2 separate regions of the Homo sapiens genome follow, and region 2 is linked to region 1. The links come from fine-mapping of genetic effects on gene expression. A gene starts in region 1. The other region holds a variant in brackets. All regions are shown on one strand. Distances are between the middles of the regions. Region 1 holds the start of RPH3A (rabphilin 3A). Region 2 overlaps RPH3A (rabphilin 3A).

Region 1 (5,386 bases):
GGGTTTCCTATGTGCCTGGGACTGCCCTAGGCAATAGACCACAGGTCCTGGCATCTGAAAGGCTTGCATTCTATACTCAACTCTGCTACTTCCTAGCTCTTTGATTATGGACAAGTCAATTCTCGTCTCTGGTCCCGAGTTTCTCCATCTGTAAATTGAGGACACTGAATTTATGTCACAGGATCATCCCAGAAAATATTCGATGAAAATTTTCCCCTCAAACTTGTAGAATGCATTTGAAATGAACTCTGAGAGACATCCTGGAGCATGTTCTTTGGAATCATACGACACTGAGTTTGAATGCTGTGTCTGTAACTTACTGTGAAGCCTTGAGCAAGGAATTTTATTTCTTGAGTCTAAGTTTTCTCATTTGCAAGATGGGAATAATACTAGTGTCCTGAAAGGGTCATGGTGAGGACTTCAGAAGATGATACATGTAAAGTTCCTAGCAGAAGAGCTGGCACATAGTAGGTTTTCAATAGCAGCCATCATTGCCACCACCACCACCACCACCATAATCATCACCATCAACATCATCAGCATAATCATTGTCAATCAACACCATCACTATAATCATCACTATGATTACCATCATGATGACAATTACTACCACCACCACCACCACCACCACTGAGGCAGGTGGTTCATTTGAGGCGAGGAGTTCAAGACCAGCTGGGGCAATATAGTGAGACCCATCTCTGCAAAAAAAAAAAAAAAAAAAAAATTAGCAGGGTATATTCGTGTGCACCTTGAGTCCTAGCTACTGGACAGGCTGGGGTGGGAGGATCACTTAAGCCCAGGAGTTCAAGGTTTCAGTGAGCTATGATTGCACCACTGCGCTCCAGCTTGGGTGACAGAGTGAGACACTGTCTTTTTCTTTTTTTTTTTGAGATGGAGTTTCACTCTCGTTGCCCAGGTTGGAGTGTAATGGTGCAACCTCGGCTCACTGCAGCCTCTGCCTTCCAGGTTCATGTGATTCTCCTGCCTCCACCTCCCGAGTAGCTGGGATTACAGGTGCACACCACCATGCCCAGCTATTTTTTTGTATTTTTAGTAGAGATGGGGTTTCACCATGTTGGCCAGGCTGATCTCGAACTCCTGACCTTAGGTAATCCACCTGCCTCGGCCTCCCAAAGTGCTGGGATTACAGGCATGAGCCACCGCGCCTGGCAGAGACACTGTCTTTAAAAAATTGTTTTTTAAATGAGCTCTAAATGTTCTCATTTTAACTCCTGGGTCTCATGGGGAGAAGTAAGTGACAAATGTAGTAGTTAACCCTGGGCCATCTGGATGGGAAGCTTTAGATATGAGTCTCCAATAGAGAGAGTTCTCCTTCACTTTGCAGAGAAGTTCTAAGCAGATCTTGGTCTGTTTGAGATTTCCTGGCCTTTTTCCAATTTGAGCCCTTTCCCAAAGTTAGGAGGAATAGGACTCTTGAGATATGGAGCACTGGGAGCCATGGGAATCCATTCATCTTTATATATTTCCCCTTTTGATACTTTTATTTCATTGTCCATATAGTGAATTCACTTCAGAAAGCCAGTCTGGATCTTTCGGGGAAGGCTCTTTGGCCAAGGCTCAATGGTCTGATTTAGACCTAAAATTTCCCTTCATTCTACTCAAACCACCTGCTGAAGGGTGAGGTTGGCACATGCCATCCTAGCTGGGCTGTCAATTCCTTTATCACTCTGTCCAAACATTTGTGTTTTAGGACAGGTTATGGACCATGAAATCATGGCAGTTCACAGCTTGGGTATTCTTATTGTTGCATTTTAACCTCTTGCTTCCTATCTTTAGGAAAAATAAGGTCATTATGTTATCATTTTCACAGATGGGACTTGGAAACATTAAATGACTTTTCCAGAGTTGTAAGGGGGCTGGATCTGACTTCCAGAAAACCATCAAGTGCTTATTCAACTAAGCCACCCTGCCCCTTAGAAATTTCCATTTCTTAAGCCTCAGCTTTTCTGCTCTGAATTCTGAGAAACTCCAGGTACAGGTCAAAAATCTGCAGCAATGGGGGTGAGGACAGGTCATCTGGGCGAAACTTTGAGGGGCAAAACCACTTAGGGAGCCCCCCACACCGGTGCCAAGCTCTTGTCTGAGCAGAGAGGAGCAATGCAGGACTGGGGGCGTGTGGGAGACAGGGGCTGTGAAGTTATAGTTCCTTTGCTCTGAGAGTGAGCGACAGTATTAGAAAAAGTGTGTGGTAGGTAAGCTGTCACTGACTAGACTGTGTGATGTCGAGAAGTCCCGTCCCCCACCCCTCCGGACTCCCCCCTTCTCTGCTTTAACCATCCAATTACTTAACTTCTCTGCCTAGGGGTTCGCTTCCCACCCATCCCCTCCTCCAAGGCATCTTAGCGCTGTCCGTGGTGCTGACCGCCAATCCCCTGGTTGCCGTTTCGACCAGCTGGGATCTCTGGTGCGCCCAACCTCCCCTCCCGGCCTCCCACCTTTCTTTCTCCAGGCACCGCACACATAAATCACGGGTGGGAGGCAGGCTTGGTTCCCGCTTGGTTCCCCCTGCACTGGGAAGCTGCCGCCCCGCTTCCCTTGCTCACACAGGGCTTTGCAGTAGTGGTGGCAGCCGCGGCAGAAACTGGCTCTGGGGAAGCAATTGATTCGTCTACTGCCAGCAGCCCGGAGTTGCCTACGCGGACTGGAAAGGAAGGGAGAAGGGAGAGAGAGAGAGAGAGAGAGAGAGAGAGAGAGAGAGACTCACAGAGCTAAAACCTTCATCCATGTGGAGGACAGTCTGAGGGAGCCACTGTCCCTTGTCCACTGACTCACTGGCTGGTCCGAGTTTTCTCCGCTTCTGGCAGTGGTATTTCTTTTTGTCTTGGTCCTGCATGATTTAGGGGTAGTTGATGTGTCTGTGTGTCTACGTGTGTGCACTGGTGCTTTGATTTTATTTTGGGAAGAGTAGGAGAGTCAAATGAACAATTTTCTTTCAGGCACCTCCGCTGAGCTTTTAAACCAAGTCATTGGGACTTAGCGTCTTTCTACCCGGCAGGGAAGGGAGGAGTTGGCAAGAATTTGGCTCACCCATTCCCCCTGCAAGCCTCCAGCGTCGCGGTAAGTGATATTCTCCCGGGTTGTGCAGATGGGCTAGGGGTGTTGGAATCCCAATTGTGATGTGTGTTCATGAGCTGGTGGGGTAAAGGGTAGTTGGGAGGAGAAGGGTATCGAGGAACGACTATGCTTATTTGCCTACATCCTGCAGTGTTTTATCACCTAAGCGGCATCCCAAAGCCAAATGAGATTTTGGCTTAGTGCCCAGGGAGGGGGTAAAATGTGCTCATGTTGTAGGCAATGCGATCAAGATTGTGGCTTCTGCCCAATTTGCCCTCTCCTTTGCAGCAGAAGCTGGTGAAAGTAGCCGGCAGTTCTCTGAGAGAGTTAACCCTTCGTGGGGCTGGCTAGTCTAGCATGGAGGGACTCTGGGTACTCTGACTTAGCAAGTGAGTGCTTATCCCTGGAGGGGAGGGGGTCACCTGAGACTGGAAGGGTAACTTTTGCCTGGGCACACTGGGTAAGATTTGCACAGGACAGAGCTTAGATTGTACCCTCTTCTAGGAACAGCTGAGTAATTTAATTGTGGTGATTTTTGCGAGGTTGGCTGTTCACGCTTTCCTGAGATGGAAGACCTGGGAGCCAGGAAAGGGCCACACTATGCCTGGGATGAGTGGTCAGGCTGGCCAGAAGGGAGCAGCCACTGCCTGCAGAGGAGATGATGTTTTATTTTCACAGGTGGCGTAACCTGTAAGTGATTGTATGGGGGAGCGTCCTGGCACTAGCTTGGGAGATTCTATCCTTGAGTTCATCTCAGAAGGAAGGAGGGGAACAAAGCTTGTTCAAATTCTGGGGAAAGATTCCAGGCTTCAGCTTCAGTTTTGTTCCAGGGTAGACCGTCCCCCTGCACTAGTTTCTTTTTCCAAGATCCTGATGGGGAAAGGCTGCACCAACCTGTTAGTGAGTGGGAAGTGGAAGTACCTTGAAATTGAATCCAAAAGCTCACATTTAATTTTGAAATGCTTTTGATGCTAATCTGCTACCCATCAAAAGGGGATTTCACTTTGCTTTCTGCTTTGATTACATCTACTTTTCTGGAAATGAATGCCCTTGTTTTTAGCATTTTTGCTATTATCTCAGGGGCCACCTCAGTGTTCTGCACCCCCAAGGATTTCCTTTTTAGATTCTTGCTCTTGGAGGTGGGAGGAATAAAACAACAGTCAGAGATTGGCAAGCCTGAAATATAAGCAGGGTTCACTCATTCTTTTTTTCTCTAGCCCCATAGCTAAGAAGAGATGCTGAAATCCCACAGCATGTGCCTGCTCAGGCAGGACATATGAGGCAGAAGAGGAGGGTTGTCTGGTGGTTAGTGTCAAAGATTTGGTTCTCAAAATCCCTAACTTCTCTTCCTAGCTTCTCTTGCTGGGTGACCTTGAGGAGGAAGTTGCCTTAGATTCCTCACTGGGAAGACTTGAGTGTGAATAATGAATGTGTGGAAATTTTGTTCAAAAAAAGAACCACATATCTGGCTATGGGTGATATTTAAAGTATTGAAATTTGGTACTAATCGATCAGAATGGCTAGGGTCCTGGAATAGGGCATCTTAGGGGGCCCCTGCTGTACTGAGTGTTAATCTTTTAATTGCTGGATTATGGAGAGGTTTGGGGGGATCTTAGGGGGCTATCAAGAGAGCCACGAGGCCTCAGGGCAGCATCCCCATTTAATTTTAATATTTATATTTTATTTTAATATTTTTAACAACTGGTTTAGCCATGCAGTACAGGCCAGCCCAGCTGGGATAGCTAATACTTGGGTGTCCAGATGTGGACACTTCCCAAATATCTCTCCACTGGGTCACTTCCTTAGGGATGGCCAAGATCCAAGAGGCCGCCCTCCCTCCTCCCCCATCACATTTGAAGTGGTGCATTGTGGTGCACCAGGGAAAGGGAAAGAGAAGCTTCTGGAAAGAGCCTTGGACTTGGGTCAGGAGACCTGGGTTCCAGTCCCAGCTGTCTCCCCTTTCTGGGCCTCAGCTTCCCCATCTATGCAATGGGGCAGTCTGTCTGGGTGGCCCTAAGTCCCCTTCAAGTTCTGGGGTTCTCTGACTATGAGATAGGTATGTGTGTGAGTGTGAGTGACTGCACATGCCCACATTTCTAGGAAGGGTTAGCACTGTGCTTGAGAATTTATCCTGTGTCGGGGAGAGGCCCTGTTTGGGGTGATTGGGGATAGGGGAGTCTCTTGTGAGAACTTTGCTAGGTTTCTAGAATCCTGAGCTCAGCTGGAAAGGGGTCTGCTTTATTTATGGCCTCAGATGCACAGAGATGTAGATTTTGCAGCACTTGAAGGCTCCAAAGAGACTCTTCTCAGG
Region 2 (5,386 bases), 95 kb after region 1:
CCCACCCGATACTTGATCTGTTAAAAATCTTGCTATTTTGCTGTGTTTGCGTCAGCTCTTTTTTAAGAAATAAAGCACCCCCGATGCAAGTTGAAGCTCCTTTTGTATATTCTATCTCCCACCCTGTCCTGTCCTCTTCCTTCTCTCCCAAGAGCTAGACACCATCCTGAATTCTTTGGGTATCATTCTCAAGTATGTCTTATACTTCATAATTATGTATCTATAAACAATGTACAGCATTGTTTGGCATGTTTTAAATTTTTGTGTAAATGTTTACCAGTTTATTTAGCCAATTCCCTTTGGGTGGACATTTAAATTGTTTTCAGCTTTTTTCTATTACAAACAAAGTTGCAATGAGCAACTTTATTCTTCCTTGTGTACATATGAGTGTTTCCTTAGGACAGAAACCAAAGAGAATTATTACTGGATCATGGGATATGTGATGTTTTCCAAAACAATTTTACAAGACATGCAAACTGCTTTCCCAATTGGCTGCAACATTATTCTAAGTAAATATTTTTATTGCGGCATAACATTCATTTAGCAAAATGCACATATAAATGCACAGATTGATGAATTTTCACAATAGTGAACATACTGGGCTTAAGGAATGGAACATTCCTAGACTGCAGAAGACCCCCACTGTGGCCCCTTCTTATTGAATGCTCCCCTGGGGTATTCAATATCCTAACATCTTACAGGACAAGTTAATTTTGTCTGTTTTTGTACTTTATATAAATGAAATTTTATTGTGTGGCTCTTTTGTATCTATATTCTTTCATTTAACATTTTACATGTGTATTCATCTAAGTTGTGTGTAGTTGTAGATCATTCTTGTTGCTATTTAGTATTTTATTGCAGGAATATAATGCAGTTTTATTTATCCAGTTTACTGTTGATGTATTTGGGTGGTTTCTAGTTTGGGGCTATTACAAATAGTGCTGCTAGGAACATTCTAGTAGCTGTTTCTAGGTGCACAGGTGCACTTATTTCTGTTGCATATATACCTAGAAGTGTAATGATTGAGCCATAAGATATGGGTACGTCCAGCTTTAATAGAAACTGCCAGTTTTCCATAGTGGCTGTGCCAGTGTGCACTCCTATCAGCCATGCATGGGAGTTCCAGTTGCTTCACAGCCTCATCAACACTTTTTCATTTTGGCCATTCTGGTAGGTGTGCACTGGTGTTGCGTTGTGGTTCCAAATTTCCCTGATGACTAAGTACAACACTTTCTCTAATGTACACTATTACATTTTGTGGTTATTTCATAATTTTCTTAAGCAGTTCCTCCATTGTACAGTATTTGTTATTTCTGCTTTTTTCATAGTTATAAACAATATTGTGACAAACATCTTTGTAGTTAAATATATTTCTAATTTTTTGAGGGTACATAGTAGGTGTATATATTAATATTCATGAGGTATATAGGATAATTTGATACAGGTATACAGTGTGTAATAATCGCATCATGAGTTTTTTAAATGGGTTAAAATAAATGTCTTTTTTAATCACCTCAAGCATTTATCCCTGTGTTATAAACAATCAAATTATACTCTTTTCACTATTTTTAAATGTACAATTAAATTATTATGGACTATAGTCACCCTGTTGTGCTATCAAATATTAGATCTCATTTATTCCTTCTAACTATTTTTTGGACCCATTGTAGTTAAATATTTTTGTACTTGCCTTATGATATATTTGAGGTAAATTCCTATAAGTGGTGCTACAGGGTCAAAAACAGTGATTATTCTCTTATGTCTTTGGAGATGCGTTGCCCTGAAGAAGGATGATATTGTTCACACCCCAACCAGCTCAGTAGAGACAAGTTTTTTCTCCAGTGTTAGACAGTGCAGGACTCAGCTATGAGGGTGTTTGGGCCCTCCAGGACTTTGAACATTTGTTCAACTAATGTTGGTGGCCAAGGAGTGCGGTACTTTTACAGTCCCTTCCTGTCCCCCAAGAATGCCTCCCATGCCTTGCAGGACAATAAGCCCTTTCCTCTCTTAGTGTTTGTCAGGATGAATTATCATGCCGTGACTGGTCCTTTTGGTCTCCTATGGCAGCAGTTCCCAATCTTTCTGGCACCAGGGAACAGTTTTGTGGAAGACAGTTTTTCCATGAACTGGGGTAGGGAGAAGGATGGTTACAGGATGAAACTGTTCCACCTTGGATCATCAGGCATTAGATTTTCATAAGGAGCGTGCAAACTAGATCCCTCACATGTGCAGTTCACAATAGGGTTTATGCTTCTGTAAGAATCTAATGCTGCCACTGATCTGACAGGAGGCGGAGCTGAAGTGGTAATGCTTGCTCACCTGCTGCTCACCTCCTCCTGTGCAGCCAGGTTCCTAACAGGCCACAGACTGGTACTGGTCCATGGCCTGAGGGTTGGAGACTCTTGTCCTAAGGGACATTTCTTATGACCTGCCTTTTTTGTGCCACTGTTACTCAATGCTGTGTAAGGTAGATAACAAAAGGCAATATATTACTATAGGATTCAGGGAGACCTGGATTCAAACCCTGGTTCTACCTCTTATTAGGGAAAAATTATTTAATCTTTCTGGGCCCCAGTATCTTCTCTAAATGGTAAATGCAGTTGTTTTGAAATAGGAAAAATTAAATGAGAAAAGTTCCTAGCCTGACTTTGCAAAAGAGGATGCTCAAATGGCCATAAAGTATATGAGAAGGGGCTCAACTGTTTTAATCATCAGGGAAATGTAAATTAAAACTAGTGACATACTATGACCCATCCAGAAAGGCTAAAATTAGAGACTGACATAATTGAAGTCAAAGAGAATAAAGAGTGACCAGAACCTTTATAAACTGCTGGTAGGGACATAATTGGTGGAACTGCCTTGGAAAACTGTTTTGAAGTTTCTACTGAAGCTAAACTTATGCCTAGTCCATGGCCAGCAACCCTACTCCTAGGAAAATACTCAATAGAAATATGTACATGTATATCCGAAAGACATGAACATAAATATTCCATAGCAGCGTTATTCATAATAACTCAAAACTAGAAACAACCTGTATCAACAGCAGAATTATTATGGTA[C/T]ATTTACACAGTGGAATACTATGCAGCAATAAAAAGGATAAGTTATACTGTGCATGGATGCATCTCACAGACATAATCTTGAGCAAGAGAAGCCAACATAAAAGAGTCTATATTATATGATTCCATTTATATGAAGGTCAAAAACCAGACAAATGACTTCATGTGGCCAGAGGCAAAAGAGTGGCTATCTTTGAGACAGGCAGTGACTAGAAAGGATCCTGAGGATCTTTCAGTCTCTGGAATGTTTTATATCTTGACCTGGGTGGGAATTACATGGGTATATACAAATGCAAGGGTTCATCAAGCTATAAACTAAATTTATGTGCTTTACTGCATGTCAGTTATACTGCAATAAAGAAGAAGTTAAAGGTACTTGGTCCAGTGATAAATAAACAGGAAATCATATTATTTCCACATACATTACACATTCCTTACCAGTATCAGCTGCAACTCTTGGCACACAGTGGTGTCTTAATATTTGTTCCTGTTTCTCTCTCTACCCCCTTGTGTTGGTGGCAGGATCTCCGTCTGTGATGAGGACAAATTTGGCCACAATGAATTTATTGGTGAGACCAGATTCTCCCTCAAGAAACTGAAGCCCAACCAGAGGAAGAATTTCAACATCTGCCTGGAGCGAGTGATTCCTGTGAGTGACTTTACCCTGAGGATCTGATGGGAGGAGGGGAGATTGGGGGAGCTGCCTTCCTCTGGGTCTGAATTGGGGGAAATAGATCCACGGGGTATTGGGTAGCAGAGGCACTGCAGCAGGTCTGCAGAGGAGAGTCAAGATTCCAGCTCACAACCTCAGGCTGCATTCTCTCTCTGCCTTTCACAAACCCTGTGTCAGCATCACTTCGAACATGAGTTCTTCTTGGCCAAACTGGATGGACAGCATGGCAGGGGCAGCATGGGCTTCCTGGGTTCAGAGCCAGCTCTGCCACTTGCTGCTCCATGGCCTTGGCCAAGGGGCTGAACCACTCCGAGCCTCGGTGTTCTTGTCTGTAATGTGGGTGTTATAACAGTACCTGCCTCTTGGGAGGGTTGTGTTTTAAAAAATAACATAATCAAAATAGAACTTAATGCATAGTAAGCACTCATAAATTAACAGTTGTTAGTGTAGGAAATATTGCTGCCTTACCCACCTGTCAGTCATGAAGTCAGAAAGCACCATGTAGATAAACAGCAGACAGCATAGCCTAGAGTTTAAGAGTATGGGCTCTGCAGCCAGACTCTCGGGTGTGAATCCTGGCTCTGCCACTTAGGGTATAACCTGAGGCAAATTATTTAATTTCTCTGGGCCTCAGATGTCTCATCTGTAAAATGGGATACTGTAGTACTAACCTCATAGGATCTTTTAAGGATTGAATGTGATAATACATATGAAGTATTAGAACTGTCATTGTTGTTGTCAGATGTGATTCTTGCTCTTTGAGAAAATAGCAAGGATCAAAGTGAGGTTCTGCAATGGGGTTGCACCTCAGAATTAACCGGGGGATTCTAAAACCAGAGCTTTACAAGCTAAGATTTGTGGGGGTCTCCCCTGGAGATTCTGTTTTAGTGGGGTAGGGTAGGACTCAACAATCTATATTTTTAGAGATAATTCAGGCTGCCTTGCCTTACGTATGGGCCAACTTGGGCCCAGAAAGGGTAGCAAGTCTCCAAGGTCTCTGGGCACTGGCCAGAGTCCAGCTCTCCTACAACACCAGCACCCCTGGTCTCTCTGGGCAGCCTGCCTGCTCTCCACAGGGAAGCTATGGGGTGCAGGAGCATCTTCCCACCAGATGGCCAGCCTGAGGATGGAATGTCTGCATGCCATGCCATAGTTTTATAGTTCAGGCAAAGGAACAAGACCAAACAAGGAAAATTTCAAGGAAGGATTTCCACTGAATTCCAGGCTCAGAATAAATCCTTAAAGACATCCCTAGGAATGAGGCCCTTCTTCTGGGCTTTTGCCTGGTGACAGCTGGGTCTTCAGGCTTCTCTTCCTTCTCCAACTCCGTGAGTCCAGTTGGCCAGGACAATGGCCAGGCCCTTGCCTGTGTCATCAGCCTTTGGGTCTTCCCATCTTGCTATGGTGAATGCAGCCAGCCCCAGAGACATGGAGGTGCAGGACACCCAGAGGGCTGCAGCAGCCGCAGAACACTACTGATCATCTTCTTTTGCTCTTTGCCATTAAACCTTAACCCTTGCACCACGAACTTCCCCCATTATGTCCCACTGAGGGCCCCTCCCCTCTGGACCTCAGGTTTCCTCCTCTCCAAAGTGGGGAGGTTGGATTTAACCAATGGTTTTCTAACTCTGTTTCCCAGAGCCTAGAGTTCAGCAAA

The links.
Region 2: its variant is fine-mapped to the expression of RPH3A in whole blood (INTERVAL, PIP above 0.99).

Annotation. Positions count from the first base shown.
Region 1 is chr12:112,789,186-112,794,571 of GRCh38, forward strand. RPH3A (rabphilin 3A) reads left to right here and starts at 2,563. Exons shown (of 22, transcript NM_001143854.2): 1 at 2,563-2,827; 2 at 2,958-3,078. RefSeq lists an enhancer at 2,655-3,196.
Region 2 is chr12:112,884,219-112,889,604 of GRCh38, forward strand. RPH3A (rabphilin 3A) reads left to right here. Exons shown (of 22, transcript NM_001143854.2): 17 at 3,579-3,705. Among named protein-coding and RNA genes, the nearest start is that of OAS1, 20 kb to the right of the region's middle. The variant C/T (reference allele first, on the strand shown) is at 3,060.